Linked DNA regions of Homo sapiens. The protein of the gene in region 3 interacts with the protein of the main gene of each other region in a pairwise test. Each region holds a gene or a part of one and is shown on either strand. Other genes may lie near its edges.

Region 1 (5,208 bases), on a different chromosome or scaffold from region 3:
ACCTCCGCAGACCTGCACCTCTTCCTCTCCTTCAGTGACACCACCATTCATCCAGGAGTTCAAACCCCAGACCTAGGACACATCCTTGAATCTCCCCCTTCCTGTACCTCCAATATTCAAGCCATGAGTAAATCTCATCATCTTTACCTCTCAAATCTAGCCTGCCCATTTCTCAGCACATAACTCCGCCACCATATCGGTGGCAAGGTGCCATTGTGTCCTACCTGAGACAGGCTGTCCCAGGGTCAGCTCCTTCCTGCAACGGGTTCTCAGTTCCTTTTTGAAAGGGTTCTCCCTGACAACCCCAGCTCAGGCAGCCTCTTCCCACACCCAGGACAAGCATTGGTAATCCAAGGTCTGAGAGTCAAATCCGGCCCTCAGCCTGCTTTTGTTAAAGATTTATTGGGACACAGCCACATTCGTTCATTTATTATTGTCTCTGGTGGCTTCCACACTGCAATGGGAGAGTTGAGTGTTGGTGACAGGGACTACATGGTGACAAAGCCTAAAATATTCACCACCTGGCCCTTTGTAGAAAAGGTCTGCTGGCCACTTCTCTGGGATTCAATCGTTTTTCTTTGTGGGATTTAACAGGACCTGCTGTTTGCTTGTCTATTCATTGCTTGTGTGTTTTCTGCTTCCCTGCTCAGTTCTTAGCTCCATGAGAACAGGAGCTTCTTCTTGTTCATTGTGTCCACAATTCTTGGAGCCATGCCAAGCACATACTAGATGCTTCATAAGTAGCTTGGCACGGTTCCAAGCAGGTCCCAAGGCCCACCATGCATGACTCAGCTCTTACCTCTACAGAGGAAGAGGTGAGAGCTGGCCCCACCACCACCACGTGCACACATGCATTCCGGTACACACGGCACGCCTGGGGCTGAGCTGATCACACCCATAGTGTTTCTGGGTCACTGAGCTGCAGTTCTGAGCCTGGCCACCAGTAGAAAGCCAGAGTGGGGCCCCAGTGTGAGGGTGGATGCATTGCAGAACAGAAGATGCTGGGCCCTCGAGTCCCGTTCCACTTGCCCCTGCAGATCACAAGTGTCCTGAGAAGGGCTGCCCACACTACCTTACGTAAGAACTGCTATTTTTAGCTTGCTGATCTTGGCTGTATACTGCAAACCTAGGGGATTACCAGTGACAGAACTGACCTGTCCCACCATGACTGATCACCGAGTACCTGGCTGAGGGACAATCTGACAAAACCAGAACTGCATTCCACAAAGAGCAATGACTGCCCAGCAGAGACAACCAAAATGCCTACCAGCAGGGAAAAGGATAAAAACCCGGGGCTACTCACGCAATGAGAGATACAGATCAATGTGGTCTGACGGCAAACAACAAACGTGGAGTGGAAAAACACAGCCTGTAGAATGTTGTATGTAAAGTGACACCACTTATGCAGGAATTACATAACATTCTGAAAGTGTTCAAGAACTATATCTATGAATAAAAATAGGTAGGAGGAAGGCCGGACACAGTGCCTCACACCTGTAATTCCAGCTACTCGGGAGGCGGAGGCAGGAGAATCGCTTGAACCCAGGAAGCAGAGGTTGCAGTGAGCCAAGATGGCGCCATTGCACTCCAGCCTGTGTGACAGAGTGAGATTCCATCTCAAAAAAAAAAAAAGGAGGGGAAAAAAACAAAACAAAAAATAAATAACAAGTGTTGGTGAGGGTGTGGAGAAACTGGAAACTGTGCACTGCTGATGAGAATAGGAACTGGTGCAGCCCCTAAGGAAAACAGCATGGAAGTTCCTTAAAAAGTTAAAAATACTCACGCCTGTAATCCCAGCACTTTGGGAGGCCGAGGAGGGGGGATCATGAGGTCAGGAGATCTAGACCATCCTGGCCAACACGGTGAAACTCTGTCTCTTAAAATACAAAAAATTAGCCTGGTGTGGTGGCGAGCGCCTGTAGTCCCAGCTACTCGGGAGGCTGAGGCAGGAGAATGGCGTGAACCCAGCAGGCGGAGCTTGCAGTGAGCCGAGATCGCGCCACTGTGCTCCAGCCTGGGCGACAGAGTGAGACTCCGTCTCAAAAAAAAAAAAAGGTTAAAAACAGAACTACCATATGATCCAGCAATGCCACTTCTGGATATATATCCAGACTGAAAGCAGGGACTAAAATAAATATCTGCTTTCCCATGTTCATATCAGCATCATTCACAATAGCCAAGAGGTGGAAGCAACTCAAACGTCTGTCAATGGGAGAATGGATGAACAAAATGTGGAACATACATACCATGGAATACTATTCAGCCTCGAAAAGGAAGGTAATTCTGACGCACACTACAACACGAATGAGCCCTGAGGACATCATGCTAAGTAAAGCAGGCCCATCACAAAAGGACAAATACTGTAATAACTTATATGAGATATACATACTGATCAAATTCATAGAGACAGAAAATAGAATGGTGGTTGCCAGGGGCTGCCAGAAGGGGAATGCGGAGGTTGTCTGGGTATGGAGTTTCAGTTTTAAACGATTAAAAAGTTTTAGAGGCCAGGTGTGGTGGCTCATGCCTGTAATCCCAGCATTTTGGGAGGCCAAGGCGGGCAGATCACTTGAGGTCAGGAGTTCGAGACCAGCCTGGCCAATATGGTGAAACCCTGTCTCTACTAAAAATACAAAAATTAGCCAGGGATGGTGGTATGTACCTACAATCCCTGCTACTGAGGAGGCTGAGGCAGGAGAATCACTTGAACCTAGGAAGTAGAGATTGCAGTGAGCCAAGATCACACCACTGCACTCCAGCCTGGGCATCACAGTGAGTTCCGTCTCAGAAAAAAAAAGTTTTGGAGATCTGTTGCACAACAATGGGAATATACTTAACACTACTGAACTGTACACTTGAAAGTGGTTAGAATGGTAAAAATAAAAGATAGGAAGGAGAAAGTCAGGAGTAAGTAGCCTGGGGAGAGGACATAGATGTGACCAGGAATGGAGGGCTCAGATTGGATTCCACTTTCGTCTATAAGGTTTCATTTTTAAAAAAGTTTTTTTAAAAAAAGGCAGCAGCAAACACGATGAAATCCGAATATCTGCCAATTTCAAGAAATGGGAACACGTGTTGCTTCTTCTAATTTAAGGTCTTCAAAAGGAAAAGAATTACAGGCCAGTGTCTGGATTGGGTCCTGGGCTCCATGGGCTGGGGGCCGCTGAGCATGTCTCATGATGGGACGCCTGGCTGGGCCTGATAGGGTGACCACATGGCATCCAGGCCTGGGCACCTGCAGGGGATGTCAGGAGCCCCGAAGAAGCAAGGCCACGTGTGCCCCCAGCCCAGCTGTGTGCTGAGAAGTCAGGCCACTGGTGAAACGGGATGAAAACCCAAACCTGAGACTGCAGACCAAAGCCTCCACATTCAGTAGCTGAGGCAGGTGGGCTTTGTGCCCAGAGAGCAGGTAGCCCTCCCGCAACCCTGGGGGCTTGTTGAGCTCTGGAGACTGGGCCAGCCAAGTGGATGGCATGGAGGAAGGGAAGGAGCAGCACCAGGCAGAAGAGAGCTGCAGGCAGGGGTGCCCAATCCACCCTGGACCCGTCCAGCAGAGGGCAGAGTCCATGACGCTGTCTCTGCAGCCCTTGGAGGGGGTGCAGAACACTCCACATGGGACCCCTTTGCTGCTCTGCCCCCACCCATGACTCACAGACCCCCTCTAGGCTCTTAGGGCTAGTGTCCAGCTGCTGATGGTAAAATGTGGACCAGGAAGGGCGAGGAGGGGCATCTGGTGGCGATGAAAGGGGCTGGGCTGAGAGCTGACCCCACACACTGACTGGGGAAGCCAGGGGCTCACATGTGCCCTCCTTTGTGAACCTGCAGAGGGTCCCAGGTTGGGCGAGGGGCGGGGCAGACAACATCCTCCTGGGAGCTGCCCCGGCATGCTCACCTTCTCTACATGACCACAACTTCACATCCTGGTTTGACCTTGCCTGTAGGTTTTTCTTGGCAAATACAGCAGCCCTGAGTTAGATGGGGAATGCTTTTTTCTTTCTTTCTTTTTTTTTTTTTTCTGAGACATTGTCTTGCTTTGTTGCCCAGGCTGAAGTACAGTGGCACAATCAGGGCTAACTGCAGCCTCGAACTCCAGGGCTCAAGAAAGCCTCCCGCCTCAGCCTCCTGAGTAGCTGGGACCACAGGCATGCACCAACATGCCTGGCTAATTTTTAAATTTGTTTTAGAGGCGAGGGTTCACTCTGTTGCTTAGATAGGTCTTGAACTCCTGGCCTCAAGCAATCCTCCCTCCTCAGCCTCCCAAAGTGCTGGGATAGCAGGTATGAGCCACTGAGCCCAGCTGGGAATCCTTTTTTTTTTTTTAATTGTTCTCACTAGGGAAGTGAACCTCCCTTGCTTAGCACAGGGGAGAAAAAAGCTGAGCCCTGTCCTTACTCATTTGGGGCCGGCCTGCCTCGGGAAGATGTTGGTGACAGAGCTTCCTGGCAGCCTCTGGGCCCTGAGTGCCTGTATTGGCCCCAGTGTGGCCCCAGGGCTGCTGGTAGAGGGGTGACCCCAGCGCAGGCTCAGTAAGCCTGGGAGACCAGGCAACGAACAGACCTGCATCTTTCTTTGAGGGTTCAGAGGGGTGGGGGCTCTCAGGCTCAGCAATCCTGCTGCCTGCACAGGGGCTGGAGGTGCTCATGTGAGCACTGCGGCTTGGGAGCCACATCCTGAGAGCCCCCGTGTGGCTGCAGAAGCCATGAAGCCAGGTTCTGTATGTGGCAGCCCAGGTGTGATACGTGATCAACAGCAGGGGCTGGAGAGCTACACCAAATCTGGGCCACTGCCAGCTTTTCTAAATCCAGTTTTATTCAAACACAGCCATGTGGGACAGAGGCTGTATGGCTGGCAAAACCTAAACTATTTGCTACCAGCTCTTGAGAGAAAAGGTTAGCCAACCCCTGATCTACACCATGCCACATTGTAAAATGTATAATGCACACACTGCAGGGCACGCTGAACAGGCCACACAAGGTACTGTCCTGACGGGAGTCGTCCTGTCCTCTCTCCTACTCCGGACACAGCATTTTGGATAAATGAGAGATGCGTGGGGCCCCAAGATGGTAGCCCTGGAAAGTAGGAGCTGGGCAGCGGTGGGGGATGGGGTGGGGGCTGTAACTGCTCTGCCTCGGGTTACAGGTGGAGAACCTGCTCAGGGACGTGCAGGGCCAGGGTCACCAAGGGAATCAGAGTTCTGGGGGCAGCTCA
Region 2 (5,208 bases), on a different chromosome or scaffold from region 3:
ACATTTTAGCATGCAAAGAATAACTTGCACAATGGATAGAATATATATTGATTAAGGTTTAGGGTCAAGAGGTATTTCTCTAATCTGGTAGAAAAGTTTTCTCCTCAGGATGTAATCTTTGGGGCATGAGGGAAGACCAGTTTGGTTCAAATGATTTAAGACCCTGATGTGGTAGCACAACTTTCTTAAATATGGTTAACATCTCAGCACACAGATATACACCATCTTGTGTTGTTAACTGAAGGGTACATGGCCACCCTCTAAGAAGCAGGTCAAAAGGGATGGCTCATCCTCTCCTTCCTTAAAAAATAGGAGAAGAAAGTCAGTACTTTTTAATAATCAGGTATTGATATGATAGGATCACTCTCTGGTGTCTTTCTCCAATCTGCTGCTTCTCATTATATGAATATATTTGGTAAATTTTAATTTGCATTGATAGCATGTTGGGCATTGTTTTTGGAAGCTAAGGTTTTCCTTGTTCTTCAAGAAAACCTCTGATTTGTGGAATATTGATATAAAAATAACTTATTCTGTGTCTACCTCGGTGAAAGTACTGGAATTATAGGACTACTCACTTTTCATATACTTTAGATTTGGGAAGACCATGATGAAATAAGATGAATTACATATACTTAGCCATGTATTTCCTCCATTTCTTCTGAATATTACTTACACATTTAAGTTAAATATTAGAATTATACATTATTCTCTTGAATTGGGAAGGTTTATTTTTTAATGCATTTCTTCTTATAGCCAAAGGCAAATATTTATAAGACTGTATGTTCACATAAGGTGATTATATCAGGTTTTGTCACTAGCTTTAAATCCTCAATAGAGTATATAAAGAATACTTTCCAAATAATGTTCTAAGTATTATCATTAATAAATATGGTTCTTGGGTAATTAAAAAAATATTTTACATCCAAAAAAAAAATAAAAAGGTGATATGATTTAGAGTATGGTCTTTTCCCCCCACCAGTTTCTGTTTATGTTCTTTTTAGGTAAGGTTCACTTATAAAATTTTAAATCATAATGCATGGATCATTAGTTTTATTGTAGAACTGTACACATATTTTATTATTTCAGTTACCACTGTTGGGAATAGGACCTGATAATATTTGAAGTGTCTCAGATTCACATTTGACCTTTCAATGTCAGGGGTTAACTTGACAGAGGAGGGAAAATATTGGCTGTAATCACATGAGCGCAAAAGGAACATATCAACAGTCATAATTTATATTATTTACGTATTTCCAGCAATACATCTTACCCATTTTATGCTGATTGGTTGGATTTCCCAGTGCTTATTACGAATGCATCAGGAAGTCTTAACAATTGGCATCAGCAGGATTCTTTATAATGGTTGAATTCTCATCATAGTTTGATTTTTGTTTGTGTTTTTGTTTGTGTTCTTTTTGTTTGTTTTTAAATACTTTTAGCCCTGGCTTGAAAAACAGTCCAATTGATGAAAGTGAGGTGCAAACAGCAACTGATAGTCCCTCTGTTAAACCTAATGAGCTTGAAGAAGAAAGTACTCCCAGCATTCAAACAGAAACTTTGGTACAGCAGGAAGAGCCTTGTGAGGAAGAAGCTGAAAAAGCAACATGTGATTCTGACTTTGCTGTTGAAACTTTGGAGCTTGAAACTCAAGGAGAGGAGGTCAAAGAAGAAATTCCTCTTGTAGCATCCGCTTCAGTCAGTATTGAACAATTCACTGAAAATGCCGAGGAGTGTGCTTTAAATCAGCAGATGTTTAACAGTGACTTGGAGAAGAAAGGGGCAGAAATTATTAACCCTAAAACAGCATTGTTACCATCTGACAGTGTGTTTGCAGAAGAAAGGAACCTCAAAGGAATTCTAGAAGAATCTCCATCTGAAGCAGAAGATTTCATTTCTGGAATTACACAGACTATGGTAGAAGCTGTAGCTGAAGTAGAAAAAAATGAAACTGTTTCGGAAATATTGCCATCAACTTGTATTGTGACGTTAGTACCAGGAATTCCCACTGGGGATGAGAAGACAGTGGACAAAAAGAATATTTCTGAAAAAAAAGGTAACATGGATGAAAAGGAGGAGAAGGAATTTAATACTAAGGAAACCAGAATGGATCTTCAAATAGGAACAGAGAAGGCTGAAAAGAATGAAGGTAGGATGGATGCAGAAAAGGTGGAAAAGATGGCAGCAATGAAAGAAAAGCCTGCAGAAAACACTTTATTCAAGGCATACCCAAATAAAGGAGTGGGTCAGGCTAATAAGCCTGATGAAACTAGTAAAACTAGTATTCTGGCTGTATCAGATGTATCTAGCAGTAAACCAAGCATCAAGGCTGTTATAGTCTCTTCTCCTAAGGCAAAAGCTACAGTTTCAAAAACTGAAAATCAGAAAAGTTTTCCAAAATCTGTGCCCAGAGATCAAATAAATGCTGAAAAGAAACTTTCAGCCAAGGAATTTGGTCTGCTTAAACCCACAAGTGCCAGGTCAGGCTTGGCAGAAAGCAGCAGTAAATTCAAACCTACTCAGAGCAGTCTTACCAGAGGAGGCAGTGGAAGGATCTCAGCCCTGCAAGGCAAGCTTTCTAAACTGGATTACAGAGATATAACAAAACAATCTCAGGAAACAGAGGCTAGACCTTCCATCATGAAACGGGATGACAGCAACAATAAGGTGAGGAGGGTAGGAAGAATGGCACAGTGTGTCTTTGAAGTGATTAGCTCCGCTGCTGTAGCTATGTAGTAGGAGATGTAATTTTGTTTCATACTTTCATCTCCTCACTCTACCCCGGAAGCTCCCATTTCCTTTTCTTAAATGATTCCATTGTTTAAGCCAGTAGACATTCAGAGTATTAAACTCAAGTTCATAATTTATTGACATGTTTGAAAAGCATTATTTGGATACAATTTGGAAATAACTGTGGTTTAAAAAAAAAAAAAAAAAGTCTGCAGTGAATCTCCTAAGGTGATTTACCACTCTGCTTCTGAATGGGAAACTGTTTCCTCTCTTAAATTGAAGCTTCCTTTATCAGGTCACTGATTGCCTAACTAGACATTGTGGGACGAAAAGATCAGTAAAACTGAATTTAACTACAACTTGTACAGACTGTGCCTATACTGTTTAGTGACTGTTGACTTAGTTTTGTATACATGTTAAATAATTTGCATAATTGACTGTATTTGGGTAATGTTTACTGTTTTTTTTTGTTTTTTGTTTTTTTTTCCAGAACATTAATAATATGGTTGTAAATTCCGTTTTTCTGTATTTCTTATTTACTATTTCAGACTTTGGCTGAGCAAAACACTAAGAATCCTAAAAGCACTACTGGTAGAAGTTCCAAATCTAAAGAGGTAAAAAATAGATCACAGACCCTAACCCTTCTTTTTCATCTCCATAGCACAGTTCATCTATCTTATAACTTGTGCCTGCCTTAACAATGTTAGTGACTAAGAGTTTAGAGCAAGGGATAGGAATGAGATGTTTTGTTTTTAACTTATCTCTAATCCTACCATTAATTTACTTTTTGACCTTGAGCTAGTCTAAACACCTTGTGTTTTCTTGAGGCGGGGGGAGCGGGCAAAATGTTATATGGGGACAGAAAGAGAGTAGAGTAGGGCAATACCTCCAATCTCATATTGACAGGAATAGGTTGTAGACACAGAAAAAAAATTTATATATGTGAAAGAGACTGACATTTGACTTGAGTCATCCTCATTTTGTTAAAACAGGTTATCCTTTTGGCTCTAATTTAACCTTAAGTGGATGGTCTCTAAGATTAACTTTACTGGTACCAAGTTCTGTTGTCAAACATATTTTATATTTGGTTGTTATTTTAGGTTTTTACCATTCATAGAATTTTTTTCAGTCATTTTACTTTTCTTACCTGGTAGGGGATAGATTTGGGCCTATGTTGTTGGGGCAAGGAGAAATGTTACTAGTTTTAAGCAGAAATAAGGATTATGGCTACTAAAGCAGAAATAAGGATTATGGCTACTAAAGCAGAAGTAAGGATTGTGGCTACTTCAGTTTGCTTTGTTAATTTGATAGTACAATCGCTTGTAGATATTCTCCCTAGAAATTACAGGGTACATATTCTAATGTCGTTATTATATATAATAGCAGTTAATCATTAATAACATACTAAATGTATAGGAGCCCTGGTAGGAATTTATCTTCTTTACTATTGACGGCATTTTTAAAAATTACAGATACTGTTGTTTTCAAATACAGTTATGTTAGTCATTGAGTCTTAGTAATAATTTTTTCATACAACTTTCTCAAAATGTAACCATTATATTTCTTTTATTATTATTATTATTTTGCAACGAAATCTCACTCCTGTCCCCCAGGCTGGAGTGCAATGGCGTGATCTCGGCTCACTGCAACCTCTGCCTCCCAGGTTCAAGTGTTTCTCCTGCCTCAGCCTCCCGAGTAGCTGGGTGGCATCTGCCACCACACCCAGCTAATTTTTGTATTTTTAGTAGAGCTGGGGTTTCACCATGTTGGCCAGGCTGGTCTCGAACTCCTGACCTCAGGTGATCAGCCTCCCAAAGTGCTGGGATTACAGGCATGAGCCACCACGCCCGGCCTGTATTTCTTAAAATATGTATTCTATATATAATTAGTTAATGTGTAATCAATATATACTGATAAATGGAACAGCCTAATTAGCTGTTTACTTTCTAACTATATTTGAGGTGCTTTTAGAAGTCCAGTAAGTCTTCTAGAGCACTTATTAGATGTTTGACATATGGAACAGTAAATCCTTTGTACTGTCTGACAAATACTTTAAATGTATTTTTATGTGTCATACTTCGAAACTCTTCATTTAGGAAATGTAATCTTATTGAATTTAAGTAAAAGTGGAATTAGGTTGATACTGTTAGAATTTTACTTTTGGATTATACTTTGTGAATTATAGCTAAGTCATTTGTGGGGCTTTAAAAAAAACAACTCTTAATTTTAGCCTTTAGGAAAACTAATTTGCACTGAAATTCTCCCAAATGATCTGCATGCACATTTATTGTGACTATTTGGAATCTAGCCAGTGGTCAAAATTTGTTTACAATACTATGATTTTTAACTTTCCAACAGGAGCCATTATTTCCATTTAATTTGGATGAATTTGTTACTGTGGATGAGGTTATAGAAGAAGTGAATCCTTCTCAGGCCAAGCAGAATCCACTAAAGGGAAAAAGGAAAGAAACTCTCAAAAAT
Region 3 (3,500 bases):
TCTCAAACATTTCCAGATGCTGGTAGACTTGAGCTAGGTAATATAGGTTATGAGTATAAACCTTTTCAAATCTGTAAAGAAAAAATAAACCAATATTTGTGTAATGGTTTACTTGTTTTTTTTTTTTCCTGAGACAGAGTCTCGCTCTGTTGCCCAGGCTGGAGTACAGTGGCACGATCTTGGCTCACTGCCTCCGCCTCCTGGGTTCAAGCAATTCTCCTGCCTCAGCCTCCCGAGTAGCTGGGATTACAGGCGCCTGCCACCATGCCTGGCTAATTTTTGTATTTTTGGTAGAGACGGGGTTTCACCATAATAGTCAGGCCAGTCTTGAACTCCTGACCTTGTGATCCACCCGCCTCAGCCTCCCAAAGTGCTGGGATTACAGGTGTAAGCCACCGTGTCCGGACCATGGTTTACGTTTTATAAGTAAATTTCATATATATTTATTTTGATTATCCCACCAACCCTTTGAGTTGGATTTGTTTATTGTATCTATTTGACAGATAAGGAAACTGAGTCTCAGGTTTGAACAAGGTCAAATAACAAGTAAGTGGTAAATGGAGGTTTTACTCCTGTCAGAATCCACATTCTATAACCTTTATAAGTGACTTTTTGAACAATCACTAATCTATGATATGTGGAAATATTTGCAAGGGCTGATTTCTATACCTACTCACCTTTTTGATCTCTCTTGTTCAGTAAGTTTCTCTTCTTCAGGAAGAAAACGCTCAGTAGGATCAAGAGGAGGACTCCCAACCTACAATTAAGAAAAACAAAAGCTCTTTAAAGTTTTAAACTGTAAACACCAAGTGCCCTCTTCTGGAGGACCTGGAGAAATCAACTTCTACAAGCCAAATACATTTCATTTTTTCCTAGTTCATTTTTATGTTACTCAAGAAGTAATTTTCTGTTTTTTAAATTTTTATTTATTTATTGAGACAGGGTCTCTGTCACCCAGGCTGGAGTGGAGTGGCACAATCTCGGCTTACTGTAACCTCCGTCTCCCGATCCTCCCACCTCAAGCAATCCTCCTACCTCAGCCTCCTGAGTAGCTGGAACCACAGGTGTGCACCACCAGTCCTGGCTAATTTTTATATTTTTTGTAGAGACAGGGTTTCGCTATGTTGCCCAGACTGGTCTTAAAACTCCTGGGCTCAAGCAATCCACCTGCCTTGGCCTCCCAAAGTGCTAGGATTATAGGCGTGAGCCACTGCACCCGCCTCAACAAGTAATTTTCTTAACCATAAAATCTGAGTCAAACAAATAAAAGATACCCTTTTATTTGTTTTAACCAAATGTCAAAAGTTCACATTTGACAAAATTTTACTGTTGTTGCAGTTAAACTGCAAATATGCAAAAAATCCACCAATCTGCTTTTAGACATATATAATTCTTGAAGTATTTTTTCTTTTTTTAATTCTTATTTATTTATTTAGAGATGGGGGTCTTGCTCTGTTGCCCAGGCTGGTCTTGAACTCCTAGCCTCCAGTGATCCTCCTGCCTCAGCCTCCCAAAGTGCTGAAACTACAGGCATGAGCTAAGGTGCCCAGCCTCTTTAAGTTTTTTTTTTTTTTTTTTTTTTTGGAGATGGAGTCTCGCTCTTTTGCCAGGCTGGAGTGCAGTGGTGCGATCTCGGCTCACTGCAACCTCCGCCTCCCGGGTTCAAGCGATTCACCTGCCTTAACCTCCTGGGTAGCTAGGATTACAGACACGTGCCACCACCCCCAGCTAATTTTTGTATTTTTAGTAGAGACGGGGTTTCTCCATGTTGGCCAGGATGGTCTCAATCTCTTGATCTCATGATCCGCCTGCCTCGGCCCCCGCAAAGTGCTGGGATTACAGGTGTAAGCCACCGTGCCCGACCCCTCTTTAAGTATTTCAAATGGCAATTTTGTCTGGTAAAAGGGCTCTTTTAAAAACATGCATAAGCAAAACAAATAGGAAAAATGTATATATTTCTACAGTAGTAGTATTCTAAACTGACCACTAATAAAAATCAAATGAGAGATTTTAATATTTATTCTAATATTTTTTTCTCAAGGAAATAACAAAAGTGTATTACCCCCTTTCAATACAGGGACATTAAAACCAGATTCCATTATTTATTGCCTTGGGCAAGTCACTTGATCTCTTGTGCTTCTGTTTAGTCATCTATAAAATAAGGGTAATAACAGTATCTATCTCATGAGGATTAAGTAATATTTATAAATCACTTACAACCCCCTCTTACGTCTTCCAAAACAGAACTACCTAACCTCTGCCTCATTCTACTTCTATGAGGATAGTCCCATCTAGAAACACACTCTTGCTTTTAACTGAATTCATTAAACTCAAAAAGGAACAACGTCTTTCATAAAAATATGATTTTACATTCTGGATGTAAACACTAAAAGCATCACAACGTGGGCTCCCAGGATTCACATAAAGTAAAAACAACTAAGACAGGAAGCAAGGCCCAAGGCAAACACAATAGATAAGTAATTCTTCAGAGAACTCTTCAACAATTCCGAGGGCTGCTTACCATGCTTACCCCTGTCTAGATGAGGGGAATTAATCAATATATTATTTTATGTACATACTTCACTGTTATGGCTTTCACACATCATACGTAATATTAATACAGTCAAATCAGTCTCTTAACTGAAACAGAGGTACAACTAAACACAAGGAATTTCACTATATGTGTTATGTTTCCATACAAATACTATTTTTAATGAAATACTATTGATGCTTAGTAACTTTTTTTTTTTTTTTTTTTGTAAAGACGGGTTCTTGCTTTGTTGCTCATGTTGGTCTTGAACTCCTGGCATCAAGCAATCTTCCCACCTCGGCCTCCCAAAGTGCTGGGATTATAAGTGTAAGTCACCGTGTTCAGCTTTTACATTTTATTTTACTTATTTTTGAGACAGGGTCTTATTTGGTTACCTAGGCTGGCGTGCAGTGGCAGGATCCTCGCTCACTGCTGCTTTGACCTCCTGGACTGCCCTCCCGGACTCAAGCCATCCTCCCACCTCAGCCCCCGAAGTAGCTGGGACCACAAGCACACGCCACCACACCCAGCTAATTTTTTTTTAGTTTTTGTAGAGACAGCGTATCACTATGTGGCCCAGGCTGATCTTTGAACCTCTAAGTCAGGCAATCCACCCACCTCAGCCTCCCAAAGTGCTGGGATTAAAGGCGTGAGCCACTGTGCCTGGCCTCAGACCTTACATTTTAAATTAACAATTTCACATATAAGACTGTGAGCCTAAAAGCAAGAAAGGGTAGACTAATATCTCTATTTGGTTTTGTGGCACTCTGCTCTTGTTAGTACTTCAGGAAGAAAGTTAAAATGCCAAGGTACGAGGCTGGGCATGGTGGCTTATGCCTGTAATCCCAGCACTTTGGGAGGCTGAGGTGGGCGGATCACTTGAGGTCAGGAGTTTGAGACCAGCCTGGCAACATGGTGAAACCCGGTCTCTATAAAAATACAAAAATTAGCTGGGAATGGTGGCGGGCAC
Region 4 (5,046 bases), on a different chromosome or scaffold from region 3:
GCCGAGATCGTGCCACTGCACTCCAGCCTGGGCGACAGAGCAAGACTCCGTCTCAAAAAGAAAAAAAAAAGAATTCTAGGTTTATGTTTGAATTAACTCCTTTGCTGTGTCATATGGGTACCATGGTTGTTTCTCCCCAAAGCAGGCTCACTGTGTACTGTTATCAGCTTGTCTGAGTATGATGAGAGAGAACACATTCATGCACATATTACATAAGTTGATTTATTACTTATAAAGGGATCGAAGATGAGAAGTCTAAAATTCAGTGTGATGTGGTCCCCCTGAGGTTCAGAGAAGTTGCCTGGAAGGATGGAATTTTGATTGCATGTGCCCCACTTGCAACACAGTTAAGAGACTCCAGAAAATAGCCCAGCCCAGGTTTTATAGCCCAGGATCACCTGACTCACTGACCAAAAGTGTTGAGAGATTGTATTTCTTGTGAAGACTGTTAAGTCTGGGCTGTTCTACCATTCTCTTCTGATATCAGGATATTCCATTCCCAGCACATTCTACACTTATTCTTGAAAACTGCAAGTAAGAAAGAGGGTAGAACCGGACCAGTCCAATAAAACTTGGAGGACAGTTCTGAATCCTTAACAGTGAGGGATCAGGATATTTGTTGTGATAGAAACATAGGCAGTAGCAGTACAGAAATTTCAGTGTCCCAGTTGGCCATCTGCTATTAGGTTTCTGGACCACAGCATGACTCATGACTGCTTTTGTCTTCTTTCTATAAAAACTGCTTCAGACTATCTTTTAATTCTTCTCATGCAAAGTAGCAGCATTTGATTTATCGGTAGTGTGGGCAATCTGTGTGGTTAAAGAAAACAGTTCAGGAGTCCGTCAACCCACATTGAAGAACACCTAATCCTCCAGTGAGTGCCACTCAATCTTGCTGGTGTTAGCAACATACAGTAAGGTCATTTTGACTAAGGTCATCTAGGTTGCAAGGTTAGGCCTTTGGCATGCTGATCAGTAGTGCTAAAAGAAGCCCATATACTAGATAGAGGTTCTGCAATGAAAGAGGCTAATGCCAAATGCTTCCTCCCCTTTTCTTGACTCATCAGTGCCTGGACCAAGAGGCACCATGGATGTGCACCTCATCAGAAGAATGCACATAAAAGCAACAGCACAAGAAAACACTCAAGGCCACTAGTCTTGCACAAGTCATCTTGTTACACAATTAGGTGACATGCTTAATTCTCCCCAGCATGGGGACATTCTTCCTTTCTGCAACTTCACACACACAAAATCCCTGGAGCTGTCCCAAGTGTGTACAGTAATAACGTTCACATGGCTACTCCAAGCATCCAGTGATGGCAACCAAACGAGATGCAGTTACCACAGAGCAGTAGTCTGACTTTTGATAATCAGGAATAAAGAACCCAGTGGTGAAGGTGCTGGGTCACTGCCTCAATGTGGGGTACCTTGGAAACTGCCTGCCAAACACAGGTCAAGGTGGAACATACATCCTCCTGGGGAACGGCTGGTCAACCAGTCATGTCTAGGAGTTGAGAGTTCTACTGTGGGAAGAGGTGGCAACAGCTGATAACACAAAGCACTGTGTAGACCAAAGTGAAAGTCCACCATCAATTGCTGTTTCTAATTCAGGTGACTTCTGTTATATTATGGAACCAGTTAGACAAAAGCAGGTAGTTAAAGCTGAAAAGATATCATCAGTCATGGTTGGTTCATTCTGTTGGTAATGCCAATTGTTTTCACAGTCTCATGGGTGACAGGAAAAATTAGGACCCTAAGACTACTGGGAAAAACACGTGACACCCATGAGTGTACAGATAAGATTGAGAGAAGTTATTAGTTACATACATTCATAGACAAAAAAGGGAGGGTTCTGTAAACGAGGCTGGTCCACACAAGACTTGCACTACGGAGCAGATAGAACAAACAGGGTGTAAGGGGAATGCTTTGTAGTATCAAGAACGTGAGATGCTTCTTGGTTCTCATAAGGATGCAATTGGTTTGTTTAAATGCATCTGTGGAATGGTAGGCAACTGAAATATGTTAGGCTACAGACTGATAAGATCAAAATAGTATGTTATAATGCCATAATCCTGTAATATACAATTTATTGTAGTGCTAATTACACATAATATAAACTAGTTATGCATAATTCATAGTAACTTACAAAACTGTACTATACCACATATTATATAGCTACTTATACACATATAAGTATACATGTAGACATGCTATATATACAGATGATGCTATACTATATGGTATACTAGGGCACACCAATTTGACTATAAATGCAAAAGGCCCCAACAATACACTGGAAAATTGAACGTTATCAATATGGGTTGAGTGTTTCTTATCTGAAATACTTGGGAACGGAAGTGCTTTGGATTTCAGACTTTTAACATTTTGGAATATTTGCAGAAAACTTACTGGATGAGCATCCCTAATCCAAATATCAAAAATCCTCTAATGAGCATTTCTGTTGAGCATAAGACTGGTGCTCAAACAGTTTTTGACTTCGGAGCATTTCAGATTTGGTATTGGAATCTGGGGTTTACAGATGTTCAACCTGTAGATAAAATACTTATATTCCATGATGAAGACAAATTTCACCCAGATAACCATAATATATTTATATCTGAAAGCCAGTTAACGTAATAGACTATCAGTAGAATGCCAAAAACCACAAATCATCTCAATAGATGCAGAAAAAAACATGTCATAAGAGTTCAACACTCCTTTACCATGAAACAATAAATAAAAAACACAAGAAAACTTCCTGAGCCTGTTTGAGAATATTTATGAAAAATCCACAATATACTTGATGGTGAGACTGAATGCTTTCACACGCAGATTAGACAAGCATACTGTCCAATCACAGTTCTCTCTTCTTAATTCAAAGTAAAAAGTGGGCCAGGTGTGGTAGCTCATGTCAGTAACCCCAACATGTAGACAGGCTGAGGCAGGAGGATAGCTTGAGGCCAGGAATTCAATACCAGCCTAGACAATACAGCGAGATCCCATCTCTATAAAAAATTTTTAAAATTATATAATTAGCTGAGCATGGTGGCATGTGTCTGTAGCTCCAGCTACATAGGAGGCTAAGGTGGGAGAATCACTTGAGCCCAGGAATTTGAGGCTGCAGTGAGCTAAGACTATTATTACCACTACACTTCAGCCTAGCTGACAAAGTGAGACCCTCTCTAAAAACATAACATTTTTTAAAAAAGTGAACTATGCAAGTAACAGCCAAAACTCATGACAGAATAAAGGAAAGAAAATGAAAATAACAATGTACATGAGACTATATAAACTTCACATACATGCAAATTAATAACAATTCTTTATTAGCAAAGAAAACAGAAGAAAATCTTTACAACAAAAAAGTAGTTTTCCCATAAAAAGGTAGAATACACACACACACACACACACACACACACACACATGAACTCATTTTTCATTGGTCCATTAATTAGAGAACAATTAAACAACTACATGAAAATTAAAATTGCCTACTATTAGAAATACATTTCAACTTAGTCTAGGGATCCAACAAATTTTTAAATGAATAGACAAAAATTATGTTAACTGATGAGAAACAAAACACAGCCTATTAAGCTCATGTACTATGGCTTATAAAGTATCTGTGAAATTCTCAGCTCCATGATTCCCTGCAAAAAACTGAAAATCTAAAGTATAGACACCTTCTTTAACAATGAACCACTGATAAAAATATATTTGAAAGCGGCTGGGAAAATAAAGTGTTCTAACACATTTTTCGTATTTTATGACGTTCTTTCCCAGGACGGGTCCTTCTAAGTTTTAGAAGGGAACTAGGAAAATTGCATACATTCTAATCTTCCTTACATGTGTTGGGTTTCTCTCTAATTTGAGTTTTTAATTTTTTCACGTGTTCTAATGAAACTAGAATAACTGAAAGCTTTAACACACTTCTTACATTGACAGAGGTGTTTTGTTGTTGTTGTTTTTTACCACATATAAGCTCTTTCATGCTTTCGAAGGGAACTGGAACAACTGAAGGCTTTACCACATTTCTTACATTCATAGGGTTTTTCTCCAGTATGAGTCCTTTCATGGCTTCGAAGGGCACTGGAAGAAGTAAACGACTTACCACATTCCTTACATCCATAAGGTTTCACTCCAGTGTGAGTTCTTTCATGCTCACATAGGTTACTAGAATATTTGAAGGCTTTACCACATTGTTTACATTCATAGGGCTTTTCTCCACTGTGAGTCCTTTCATGGACTCTGAGGACTCTGGAACATCTAAAGGCTTTGCCACATTTTATACATTCATAGGGTTTTTCTCCAGTATGCGTTCTTTCATGTATTCCCAAGTAAGTGGAACGACTGAAGGCTTTGCCACATTCCTTACATTCATAGGGTTTCTCTCCAGTATGAGATCTTTCATGTTGGCGAAGAGAACTGGAAAAAGTGAATGATTTACCACATTTCTTACATGCATAGGGTTTCTCTCCAGTATGAGTTCTTTCATGTTCACGAAGATAACTTGAATAATTGAAGGCTTTATCACAATGTTTACATTTATATGTTTTCTCTCCAGTGTAAGTGCTCTGAGGCATTTGAAATACACTAGGAAAATCAAAAGGCTTCTCATACACTGGACCCTTATAAGGCCCATTACTAGTGTGTGTTACCATGTGTCTGTCAACACTGGTGAGAGAGATAAAGGCTTTCCCACATTGTTTGCAATGATATAACTTCTCTGGACATTCCTCACACTCAAATAGTTTGTTTCCAATGTGAGACAGGATGTGCCTATGAAGGGCTGAATGACATATGAAGACTTTTCCACACACACTGCATTCACATGGCTTTACTCCAGTAGAAACTTTCTTATTCAGATTCAAATTTGAATCCTGGCTGAAGGTTTCTCCATATTGACTGCCTTCTTTAATTTCAAACAGTCTCTCTACCACATGACTGCTGTAAAAATGATAAACATCATTAATGGTACATTTATTCATGGTTTACATTGCTACTAATACCATGGAAAATGCAAGTTTCCTGCCATATCTAAATTGT
Region 5 (5,208 bases), on a different chromosome or scaffold from region 3:
CCTGCTTTTTTCACAGTTTTTCCCCAACAAAGCCCAGAGGCATTTTCCAGGTGGAGACACCATGCCAGACACAGGGCGGACTCTCAGTGACCCTCCCACCCCAACGCGGAGCCAGTGTGGACCCTGATCTGAGTCTGGTGCCTGGAAGCAGGAGGCCTCCATGGTGACCCAGTGTCGGGGCACTGGGCCAGGAAGGGGCGGGGAAGAGGGTCGGATTCCCGGGCAGTGGGGATCTCCGCCCTGAGGAGGTCAGGACAGAAGCAGGTGACCCAGGTGCCCCAGCGAGGTCGGGGGTGGGGGCCGGGTGGGCACACAGCGCAGCACAGGCAAGGGCCCAAGTGGCATGGGCCTCCCCCCGGGAGAAGGCAGGCCGGGGGGAGTGGGAAGAGAGCCAAAAAGATGCCGGCTGAGAGGGCCTGTAGGGTGCCACCCGCACCTGCTGCTTTTGGGAGAAGCTGAGGCACAGGGTGAGATTGGGGCGCAGGGCCTCCACGTCCGCAGGCTCAGACCTCACTCTGAGCTTCGGGACCAGGGAGTGTGGCCTTGCCTCCTTCCTGCCCAGTCCCTGCAGACCTTCATCCGCTGAAGTCTTTGGGGGCCCTGAGAGACCCCACAAAGCAGCAGGGGCCAGGAAAGGGCAAGGGCCCGGCACCGTCGCAGAAGCTGAAACTGAGCCCCAACCCAAGGGCACACGAGTCTCACCCCCAGAGAAACTGAGCCCCAAGCCAAGCACACACGAGTCTCACCCCCAGCTCCCCCAGCCCCAACTCCCCAGGCCAAACTCCCCCAGCCCCGGCACCCCCAGCCCCGGCACCCCCAGCCCCGGCTCCCCCAGCCCCGGCACCCCCAGCCCCGGCACCCCCAACCCCGGCTCCCCCAGCCCCGGCACCCCCAGCCCCGGCACCCCCAGCCCTGGCTCCCCCAGCCCCGCTCCCCCAGCCCCGGCTCCCCCAGCCCCGCTCTCCCAGCCCCAGTTCCCAGTCCTGGTTCCCTAAGCACCTGGCTCAGGTGAGCACTCACCCATCAATGACAGGGGAGTCCCTCATGATCCTCTCTGCCTCGTCCCGAAAGAAGTCTGCAGTGCAGACGGCCACAAGGGGCCACAGCCACCATCCGCTCCACATGGTGGGGTCCCCGGGGACCTGTGTGCACTGCTGCCCTGGTGCCTCTGTGCTGGCCTGGCTGGCCCGTGCAGAAGGATGAGCTTCAGGCTGTGAGGAGCCACTCTGCCTGCCAGGAGAGGCACCAGAGGTGTGGGTGGAAGTGATGACAGGTGGCTGCTCTCCTGTTTATAGCTTCCCATGTTCAATAAGTAACCAGCACATTCCCCACCAGGGTGGGTAGGATGGAAGGCCGGACACTCAATGACTGGGCGTTGCTGTCTGGGCTAGGCGGAGGCATAGTAAGAAGCTGGGATCCCAGACCCAGGGGTGGAGCTAGAGCCCAGATGAAAGGACAGCAGGCTGAGAGCAGGCCCAGATGAGTGGTGAGTGGCTGTTGGCTCTAGCTGTGCTACTGTTATTACTACCACCTCCCTCAGGACCCGGGGGCCTAGATCTGCAAGCAAGACAACAGTCATTCAAATAGTGCATTCTCATAAAGCACCCCTTTCCACGTAAAAATCATCTTACGTGACTTGCCATGGGGGATAAACATTAGGGCGTTCCAGGAAGCTGCTGCACAGCCAGGTGTGCCCCTGGCGCCTGCCCTGTTGCTGAGGGGTCCGCACCCCCGGCCTGCAGCCCTCCAGCGTCACAGGGACCCACACTCCAGCTACAGAGCTTCAGGCCAAGCAGCTAGACACGTCCTTAGAACCGGGGCCTCTCTAGGACTCAGCAGAGCACATTCAAGTCGCCCGAGGGCTCCTGGGCACACAGTTCCCAGGTGGTGCCCTGACGGAAGAATCTTAATCCCAGGGCTGGGTGGTGTCTGGGGTTCTGGGGGACAGTGGGCTGAGCACTGGGGCTAAACCAGGCCTGCTGGGAGGAGCAGGAGGGAAAACTGGTCAGAGGCTTCGGGGGGGGGTGGGGGGAGCCCGGCAGGGAAGGAGGATCGCCCCAGCTGGAGGACAGTGGCTCCCTCTCGGCTCACTGCAACCTGCACCTCCTGGGCCCAAGCAACCCTCCTGCCTGAGCCTCCTGAGTAGCTGGGACCACAGGCGTGCACCACCACGTCTGGCTAATTTTTGTATTTTTTGTAGAGATGGGGTCTTCCCCATGTTTCCCAGGCTGGTCTCGAACTCCTGGCCTCAAGCAAACCTGCCTGCTTTGGCCTCTCAAACTGCGGGGATTACAGGCATGAGCCACCATGCCCAGGTCATGATAAATCGTATTTTCATTCAATATTTTAAAAAAATCAGAATTCATGTAAAAAAAATCCATAATGAACAAAGTATAAAACTTTAAAATAGCTGGGCACAGTCATTCACGCCTATAATCCCAGCACTTTGGGAGGCCGAAGCGGATGGATCACTTGAGGTCAGGAGTTCAAGACAAGCCTGGCCAATATGGTGAAACCCTCTCTGTATTAAAAAGACAAAAATTAGCTGGGCATGGTGGTGCGCACCTGTAGTCCCAGCTACTCAGGAGGCTGAGGCAGGAGAATCACTTGAACCCGGGAGGCGGAGGTTGCTGTGAGCCAAGATCATGCCACTGCACTTCAGCCTGGGCAACAGATCAAGACTCCATCTCAGAAAAACAAACAAACAAAACACAAACCGCCCCCCCTCCCCCACAAACCTTTAAAATAAAGACAGGCCCAATATTCTGATTTTTCCTTTTGCCTTCAGCTCCAATACTATCTACACAGCCCTGGACTCTGAGAACATCCATGTTCTGCTTGTCGCTTCAGAGGCAGAAACTGAGTGACAGGAGAGCATTTCCAAGAGCACCACACTCCCTCAGGTGCCACTAAGGAGAGAACTTGAGGCCACTGTATTTGTCCATTTTCACACTGCTATAAAGAAATACCCTTTGGGGGCTGGGCAAGGTGGCTCACACCTGTAATCCCAGCACTGTGGGAGGCTGAGGCGGGCGGATCACCTGAGGTCAGGAGTTCGAGATCAGCCTGGGCAACATGGTGAAACCCCGTCTCTACTAAAAATACAAAAATTAGCCAGGCATGGTGGTGCATGCCTGTAATCCCAGCTACTCGGGAGGCTGAGGCAGGAGAATCGCTTGAATCCGGGAGGTGGAGGATGCCATGAGCTGTGATCGCGCCATTGCACTCCAGCCTGGGCGACAAGAGTAAATCTCTATCTCACAAAAAAAAAAAAAAAAGAAAGAAAAGAAAGAAAGAAAGAAATACCTTTTGTGGCCGGGTGTGGTGGCTCACGCCTGTAATCCCAGCACTGTGGGAGGCCGAGGCGGGTGGATCACCAGGTCAGGAGATCGAGACCATCCTGGCTAACATGGTGAAACCCCGTCTCTACCAAAAATAAAAAAAATTAGCCGGGCATGGTGGCGGGTGCCTGGAGTCCCAGCTACTTGGGAGGCTGAGGCAGGAGAATGGCATGAACCCGGGAGGCAGAGCTTGCAGTGAGCCGAGATTGCACCACTGCACTCCCGCCTGGGCGAAAGAGCGAGACTCCGTCTCAAAAACAAACAAAAATACCCTTTGGGAGGCCAAGGCAGGAGGATCACGAGGTTAGGAGTTTGAGACCAGCCTGACCAACATGGTGAAACCCCTTCTCTACTAAAAATACAAAAATTTACTGGGCATGGTGGCCCTTGCCCGTAATCCCAGCTACTTGGAGGCTTTTGGAGGAGAATCACTTGAACCAGGGAGGCGGAGGTTGCAGTGAGCCGAGATTGCAACACTGTACTCCAGCCTGGGTGGCAGAGCAAGACTCCGTTTCAAAAAAAAAAAAAAAAAAAAAAAAAAAGAAGAAATATCCAAGACTGGGTTCCCCTGCCCTTCCTTTCCCTCTTCTCCCCTCCCCTCCTTCCTCTCTCTCTCTCTGAGACAGAGTCTCAGTAGGTCACCCAGGCTGGAGTGCGGTGGCACAATCTCGGCTCACGGCAACCTCTGCCTCAACTGATTCTCATGCCTCGGCCTCCGGAGTAGCTGGGATTACAGGCGCACACCACACCCAGCTAATTTTTTTTGTATTTTTAGTAGAGACAGGGTTTCATCATGTTGGTCAGGCTGGTCTTGAACTCCTGACCTAAAATAATGTGCCCTCCTCGGCCTCCCACAGTGCTGGGATTACAGGTGTGAGCCACCATGCCTGATCCCACATCTGACTTTTTTTTTTTTTTTTTGAGACGGAGTCTCACTCTATTGCCCAGGCTGGAGTGCAGTGGCGCAACCTCAGCTCACTGCAAGCTCTGCCTCCCGGGTTCATGCCATTCTCCTGCCTCAGTCTCCAGAGAAGCTGGGACTACAGGCGCCCGCCACCACGCCCGGCTAATTTTTTTCTTTTTTTTCTTTTTTTTTAGTAGAGACAAGTTTTCACCGTTTTAGCCAGGATGGTCTCGATCTCCTGACCTCGTGATCCGCCCGCCTCGGCCTCCCAAAGTGTTGGGATTACAGGTGTGAGCCACCATACCTGGCCCCACGTCTGACTAATTTTTTATTTTTACTACAGACAGTTTCACCATGTTGGCCAGGGTGGTCTCAAACTCCTGACCCCAAGTGATCCACCCGCCTCGGCCTCCCAAGCTGTTGGGATTACAGGCATGAGCCACCGCGCCTGGCCAAGACTGGGTAATTTTTAAAGGAAAAAAGCCTTCATTGACTCACAGTTCCACATGGCTGGGGAGGCCTCAGGAAAATTACAATCATGGCCGAAGGCAAAGGGAGGCAAGGCATGTCTTAAATGGCAGCGGGGGAGAGAGTTTGAGGGGGGGACTGCCAAACACTTTTAAAAACCAGATCTTAGGCTGGGTGCGGTGGCGCACGCCACCGCGTGATCCAAGCACTTTGGGAGGCCGAGGCGGGTGGATCACCTGAGGTCCGGAGTTCGAGACCAGCCTGACCAACATGGAGAAACCCCATCTCTACTAATAATACAAAATTAGCCAGGCGCGGTGGCTCATACCTGTAATCCCAGCTACTCGGGAGGCTGAGGCAGGAGAATTGCTTGAACCCGGGAGGTGGAGGTTGCGGGGAGCCAAGATTGTGCCACTGCACTCCAGCCAGCTTGGGCAACAAGAGTGAAACTCCGTCTTAAAAACCACCACCACCAACAAAAACAACAACAAACAG
Region 6 (5,798 bases), about 15 Mb from region 3:
AGACCCCCCAGGCTGGTCAGCACTGAGCATGCACATCCGGGGGGGCTCCAGCCTCCGTCTGTAGTGTCCAAAACCAGAATGAGAATGTCCAGTCTGCTTCAGAAAACAATTTTATAAACACCTTCTGAAGCTGTGATGGAAGACCCTGGTTTTTGTATAAGGAGGTATTAGACACTAGCTAGTTATGACTGCCCCTCCCTGCCTCTTATCCTCTCCACACTGCATCGGTGTCCCTCCACTCCAGGAGCCCAGATACATACGGGTGCAGTAGTGGTGATAACGCCCCCATTTGTGTTCACAAACACTTACGTAGAGTCCTAGGTATCAAGCATTATTTTAAGTTATTTACACATAATAGAAGTAAATACTTCCAACCACCTATATGAGTTAGGAAATAATATCCGATTTATGGAAGAAGCCCAGAACTAGAAATGCTGAAGCCAGAATGCAAACCTAGGTTGCTTGGTTACAGAACCCACACCATTGATCTCTACAGCCTACCATCTCTTTCATCAGGTTTCAGCAACCCCTGTCTTCCAGAAATCAGCTGTCGTTCTTCAGAATCAATCTGGAATTCAGCCCATTTTAGCCTGCCCACCCTCTGCCCTTGGCCAATTTTCTGTAAGTAGTAAAAATGCCCTTGGCCTGGCTGCCCAGGGCCCAGGGGTCAGGCCCCAGGCAGGACCCCAGAGCCTGTGGACTGGGGAGGGGGCTGGTACCGGAGAAGGCTGGATGTGGCTGCAACGAGGGCATTCAGGCTGATCCCACTGTCCGCAAGAGCCAAGCTCAGCACCAGTAGGTGGCAGGGAGTCCGCAGCTCCGGGGTCTTGCAGAAAGAGAAGATGGTCAGGGTATTGAGGCTGAGACCGGAGAGAGCTGAAAGGAAGGGTGGGGGCTGGCATTGGGGCTGCTGAGGCCCAGCTGGGGTCAGAACAGTGTGTGTGGGGTGGATGGAACATCAGCAACCTCCTGGACAGACAAGGAAGACAATCAATATAGGGTAGCATGCTTCATGCTATAACAGTCATAATCACTGACAGCTGCCAGGCACTTAGCACACACCAGGCACCAGGATAAGCACTTTATATGAGTCATCTCATTCAATCTTTACTTGGATACTCTCTTCTCCATTTATAGCTGGGAAACTGAGGCTCAGAGACACTAGCTAACTTGCCCTAAGTACACAGCTAGTAAGCGGTGGAGCTGGAACTTGAATTCAGGCCTTTTGGATTTCAAAATGCCTTCTCCAAGGACTGTAGAGCAAAGTCAGAGAGGCTCCAAGGAGAAGAGTCGATGTTAGAGCTGGGAGCTGCCCAGGACGCCAGGCATGGAAGTGAACATGAAGGGGGCGTACTCTGGCAACAGAGAGACCCGACCTTGAATTTTGGCTTGGTTGCCTCGCTTGCTGCTCCTTAAGCTCTCTGAACCTCAGCTTCCCCTATCTAAAGTGAGGAACAGGAAAAAATCCTGCCTTCAAAACTATGAGAAGCACTTACCTGCAGGACAGTGCATGGAAGAGCATTCCAGGAGGGAATAGCATGTGCAAAGACATGCTATGGTACAATGAGATACCACCTTACTCCTATAAGAATGACCATCATTAAAAAGTCAAAAAACAATAGATCAATGCCATGGATGTGGTAAAAAGGGAATGCTTATGCACTGCTGGTGGGAATATGTAAATTAATACAACCTCTATGGAAAACAGTATAGAGATTCCTTAAATAACTAAAAGTAGATCTGCCATTTAATCCAGCCAAAAACACACATGCACATCTATGCTTACCGAGGCACAATTCACAATTGCAAAGATACGAAATCAATGTAAGTGCCCACTGACCAATGAATGGATAAAGAAAATGTAGTATATATACATCATGGAATAATAGCTGTAAAAAGGAATGAAATAATGTCTTATTACAGCAATTTGGATGGAGCTGGAGGCCATTATTGTAAGTGAAGTAACTCAGGAATGGAAAACCAAATGCTGTTTGTTCTCAGTTACAAGTGGGAGCTAAACCGTGAGTACGCAAAGGCATTCAGAGGACACAATGGACTCTGGAGACTCAGAAGGGGAAGGGTGGGAGAGGGAGTGGGATTAAAAAAACCTACAAATGAGGCACAATGTACGCTACTTGGGTGATGAGTGCACTAAAGTCCTAGCATTTGCCACGATGTAATTCATCTATGTAAACAAAAATCACTTGTATCCCCAAAGCTATTGAAATTTAAAACATATTTTAAATAAAATAAAAACCAAAGCATTGTGTATATAATGACATTTCTAGTCATTAAACATGAAATAAAAATGTAAATTTAAACCCCTTCCAAAAAATAAAGTGGTAAAATTTTATGGCATGTTTGAGGACCTGGAAGGATGCTAGATTGTAGGGTTCTCAGGAAAGGGAGACACGGGCTGGGGCCACCAGACAGTCGTGTCCAGAGCCTTCAGGACCAATCTAATGACTGTCACTTCCTCTCCATTGTCAGTTCTCATTAGGTGAGAAAACGTGCTGATGATTTCTCTGGGTCTGCTTTGAACCAAAGCTGCGTTCTCCATCAATTTAGCTTGGGCTGGCCCAGATTCAGGATTGACACTGTCTCTAGCTCTGGCCTCAGCGAGCATCTTAGGGATTCTAGGTTGAGGTAGGTACCTCGCAGACCCAGGTTGCCTCCAGAGGTGAAGTGCTTGGGCTCATAGGAGTAGACACAGTGAAAATAGTGGTGGGGCTGGAGAGGATGGGAGTGAATGAACTTAAATACCCTAGAGTCTATTTAGGCTAGCACTTTATACCCATTATCCCATTTAATCTTTACAACCACCCATTCGGAATGTCAAGGCATTGAGGGCAGAGAGCTGAAGGGACTTGGTTCCAGCCACACAAGAGCAGGAGGCAGAGCTGTCTGTCCCCAGAGCCTTTTGGGGGACTGATCTTATGTGGGATTCTCAGCAGGATTTCCAAGGAGTGGATTAAATTTTCTCCCGGCTGGAGGGACATGAAAAGTCCTAAAGCCTGGCTCTTGATCATCTCCTGGGCAGATGTCCCCTTTCAAAGTCCCTCCCTCCCTGACCCTTGCCTGGCTTCCTCTCTGCTCCCAGCGGGCAGTGTGCTGCACCTCACAGGTTCAATTGTCAGAACACCCCCCGAGTCCGGGCACAGAGGGGAAGGCAGCCAATGGGACCGGACACCCAGCTGGGTTTGGGGACCTCTCCTCTCCTTGCCAGCTCCACACTGGTGGCCTGGGTCCTCAGAACCCACTGGGCCCCCGCTGCACCCCAGGTTCTGCCTGGCTCACCTTCCACCAGTAGCACCATCCCCACAGCCAGCACCTCGAGCTCCCCGAAGCCAGTGGGCAGGGCACTGGTCTCTGCCATCCTCACTCTCCCTCACTGCCAGTGGCCCAGCTGTCTCTGGCTTCCCACAGCCAGGCCCTCCCTTTTAAAGGGCCATCCCATGTGCGTGGAGGCACATGCAGGTTATTATGTTGGACCTTGGGCTGTTTCTGGATGCCTCCCCGCTGCAAATGGTCCTCTTGGCCCAAGCAGAAGGAACCCATTCACGAGTTGGACAATGCAGCCTTTGTGAAGCCAGAATGGAGCCCTGTCTCATTCATTTCAGCCCCATTGCACAGGATTAAGGTCGGGGAATCCAAATGGTGTGTGGCTGAGAGCCTAATTGGAAAAGAGTTGCATAACCAGGGGAGGGGAGCAGGAGGAGGGATTTGAGCCGCAGCTGTTCCCAACAAGCCTGGTGCCTGTGTGTGTGTCCTCAGGCTCACATGAGTATACTCCAAAGCGCTGGGGAAAGGATGAGGCTTGGGAAGTCGCCTGCTGTCAGAGGAAGAACCCCATCTGGGACCAGAAAATGGGGTTGGGGTTCTGGTTCTGAATCTGCCACTAACTAGTTATGCGCCTTGGAGTGGGACCACTGGACTCTTCCGTTTACTTTTCTGCAATGTCAATGTCTTTTGTCTGTGGCCTTTATATAAGTCCTGGTTAGATATCACGAATATAAACCTCAGGGCTGCATTTCCTGTCTCCCATAGAGCACCTGAGCATAAAAAATGTCCTAGGACACTGTCTTAGAACAGAGGGGCTGCCTGCCGTCTTGTCAGTCTCCGACCCCGAACCCGCCCAGCCTTGCCGGCCCCACTAAGAGCTTTGGCTGCTACAAATGACTTCTTGATACACTGGCTCTTTATGCACTGTTATGCTCTGGCTCATGATAAAATTTACACCAGGAAATACTGATCTAGGACAACTTAGTTCATTTTCAGATAAAGAAACCAAGCTCCAGAGCACTATCAGCAACATAGCTAATATTGAGTGAGGTCAGGCCCTGTGCTAGGGGATCTTCTGATGAGTCCTACAACAACTCCATGAGTTAGATACCATTATCCTTTCCATTTTAGATGAGGAAACTGTGGCTAAAAACAGTTAAGAATCTGCCTGAGGCCATGCAGTAATTTATGGATGGAGCTGGAACAAAAGCCGATCTCCTATTCCTCAGGCTCAGGCATTTTTCAATGGCATCTTCTGACTCACCTGGTAGAGCAACCCACTCTGTTCCAGGAATGCCCACTTCCCAGGCCTTTCCTCTCATGAGTCCTCACTTACATCCAAGCCTAATCCCTCTGCAGGGCTGAGCTTATGGCTGCGCCCTCCAGAGCGTTCCCTGTTCTTTCTCAATTTCTTTTTTGTTTTTTTGTTTGTTTTTGAGATGGAGTCTCGCTCTGTCGCCCAGGCTGGAGTGCAATGGCGCAATCTCGGCTCACGCAACCTCTACCTCCCCAGTTCAAGCTATTCTCCTGCCTCAGCCTCCCGAGTAGCTGGGATTACAGGCATGTGCCACCATGCTCGGCTAATTTTGTATTTTTATTAGAGACAGGGTTTCTCCATGTTGGTCAGGCTGGTCTTGAACTCCCGACCTCAGGTGATCTGCTGGCCTTGGACTCCCAAAATGCTGGGATAACAGTCATGAGCCACCCTGCCTGGCCTTCTGTCTCAATTTCTACCTTATGGTGTTGGTTAATACATATGTCAGTCCTTTTTTCATGCCTTCGAGATCACAAAAGCCTTCATGAGAGGAGATAAAGCAGGGCAAGGCCAAGATTAAAGGGTAAAGTTCATTTGGGCAAAAGACACAAGGAGGAAGAAGCAGAGATGTGGGAACAGGCAAGCTGACGGCTGGGTTTGGGGAGGTGGAAGTATAGCTGGGAAGCACTGAGAAAATCCTACTGGCTGCATTGGAAGGAAGGAAAGAATGAGAAGCCAGTATTGTTGAAACAGACCTGGCTCCGAGCTAGGCATTTTATGTGTGCACTGGGGCCCCAGATATCTTTGCAGGTCATACCTCACTGGTCTAGGCCTGCCTGGAGCCACAGGCATGAAGGACTGGGGAACCTTCTAGAAAAGCCAAACAACATAGGTAGGGCATGCTGGACCAGAGAACAATGCCTCAGGGTCAAATGTGAAGAATGAATGAATGAGTCGACTGAGTGTCTACTGCTGGGAATCATCCCTGGTCAGTCCCCACTGGCATCTTGAGTAGATATGGTGGGGCGAGATAGGGTTAGGAGAGAATAAGTAAAAATTGAAATTAGTCTGGGTGCAGTGGCTCAGGCCTGTAATCCCAGCACTTTGGGAGACTGAGGTAGGAGGATCGCTTGAGGCCAGGAGTTTGAGACCATCCTGGGCAACATGGCAAGACCCTGACTGCAAAAAATAATTTTTTAAAAATAGCCAAACATGGTGGTGGTTGCCTGCAGTTCCAGCTACTTGCGAGGCTGAGGCAGGA

Evidence for each region.
Region 1: the proteins of KIFBP (region 3) and PLEKHF1 interact in a two-hybrid assay, tested with the Homo sapiens proteins (one large-scale study listed by BioGRID and IntAct).
Region 2: the proteins of KIFBP (region 3) and ZNF638 interact in a two-hybrid assay, tested with the Homo sapiens proteins (one large-scale study listed by BioGRID and IntAct).
Region 4: the proteins of KIFBP (region 3) and ZNF670 interact in a two-hybrid assay, tested with the Homo sapiens proteins (one large-scale study listed by BioGRID and IntAct).
Region 5: the proteins of KIFBP (region 3) and DPEP1 interact in a two-hybrid assay, tested with the Homo sapiens proteins (one large-scale study listed by BioGRID and IntAct).
Region 6: the proteins of KIFBP (region 3) and RGR interact in a two-hybrid assay, tested with the Homo sapiens proteins (one large-scale study listed by BioGRID and IntAct).

Annotation. Positions count from the first base shown.
Region 1 is NC_000019.10:29,667,529-29,672,736, reverse strand, and holds part of PLEKHF1 (pleckstrin homology domain-containing family F member 1), read right to left. Parts: intron 1-5,208. UniProt on the Homo sapiens protein: May induce apoptosis through the lysosomal-mitochondrial pathway. Translocates to the lysosome initiating the permeabilization of lysosomal membrane (LMP) and resulting in the release of CTSD and CTSL to the cytoplasm.
Region 2 is NC_000002.12:71,421,375-71,426,582, forward strand, and holds part of ZNF638 (zinc finger protein 638), read left to right. Parts: intron 1-1,439; coding exon 1,440-2,664; intron 2,665-3,275; coding exon 3,276-3,341; intron 3,342-5,085; coding exon 5,086-5,208.
Region 3 is NC_000010.11:69,002,303-69,005,802, reverse strand, and holds part of KIFBP (KIF-binding protein), read right to left. Parts: intron 758-3,500; coding exon 678-757; intron 72-677; coding exon 1-71. UniProt on the Homo sapiens protein: Activator of KIF1B plus-end-directed microtubule motor activity. Required for organization of axonal microtubules, and axonal outgrowth and maintenance during peripheral and central nervous system development.
Region 4 is NC_000001.11:247,033,481-247,038,526, forward strand, and holds the end of ZNF670 (zinc finger protein 670), read right to left. Parts: intron 4,948-5,046; coding exon 3,969-4,947; 3' UTR 1,157-3,968; downstream 1-1,156. UniProt on the Homo sapiens protein: May be involved in transcriptional regulation.
Region 5 is NC_000016.10:89,626,327-89,631,534, reverse strand, and holds part of DPEP1 (dipeptidase 1 isoform a precursor), read right to left. Parts: intron 2,581-5,208; exon of another isoform or gene 2,566-2,580; intron 1,266-2,565; exon of another isoform or gene 1,231-1,265; 5' UTR 1,125-1,230; coding exon 1,021-1,124; intron 1-1,020. UniProt on the Homo sapiens protein: Hydrolyzes a wide range of dipeptides including the conversion of leukotriene D4 to leukotriene E4. Hydrolyzes cystinyl-bis-glycine (cys-bis-gly) formed during glutathione degradation.
Region 6 is NC_000010.11:84,242,669-84,248,466, reverse strand, and holds the start of RGR (RPE-retinal G protein-coupled receptor), read right to left. Parts: upstream 3,415-5,798; 5' UTR 3,377-3,414; coding exon 3,298-3,376; intron 877-3,297; coding exon 720-876; intron 1-719. UniProt on the Homo sapiens protein: Receptor for all-trans- and 11-cis-retinal. Binds preferentially to the former and may catalyze the isomerization of the chromophore by a retinochrome-like mechanism.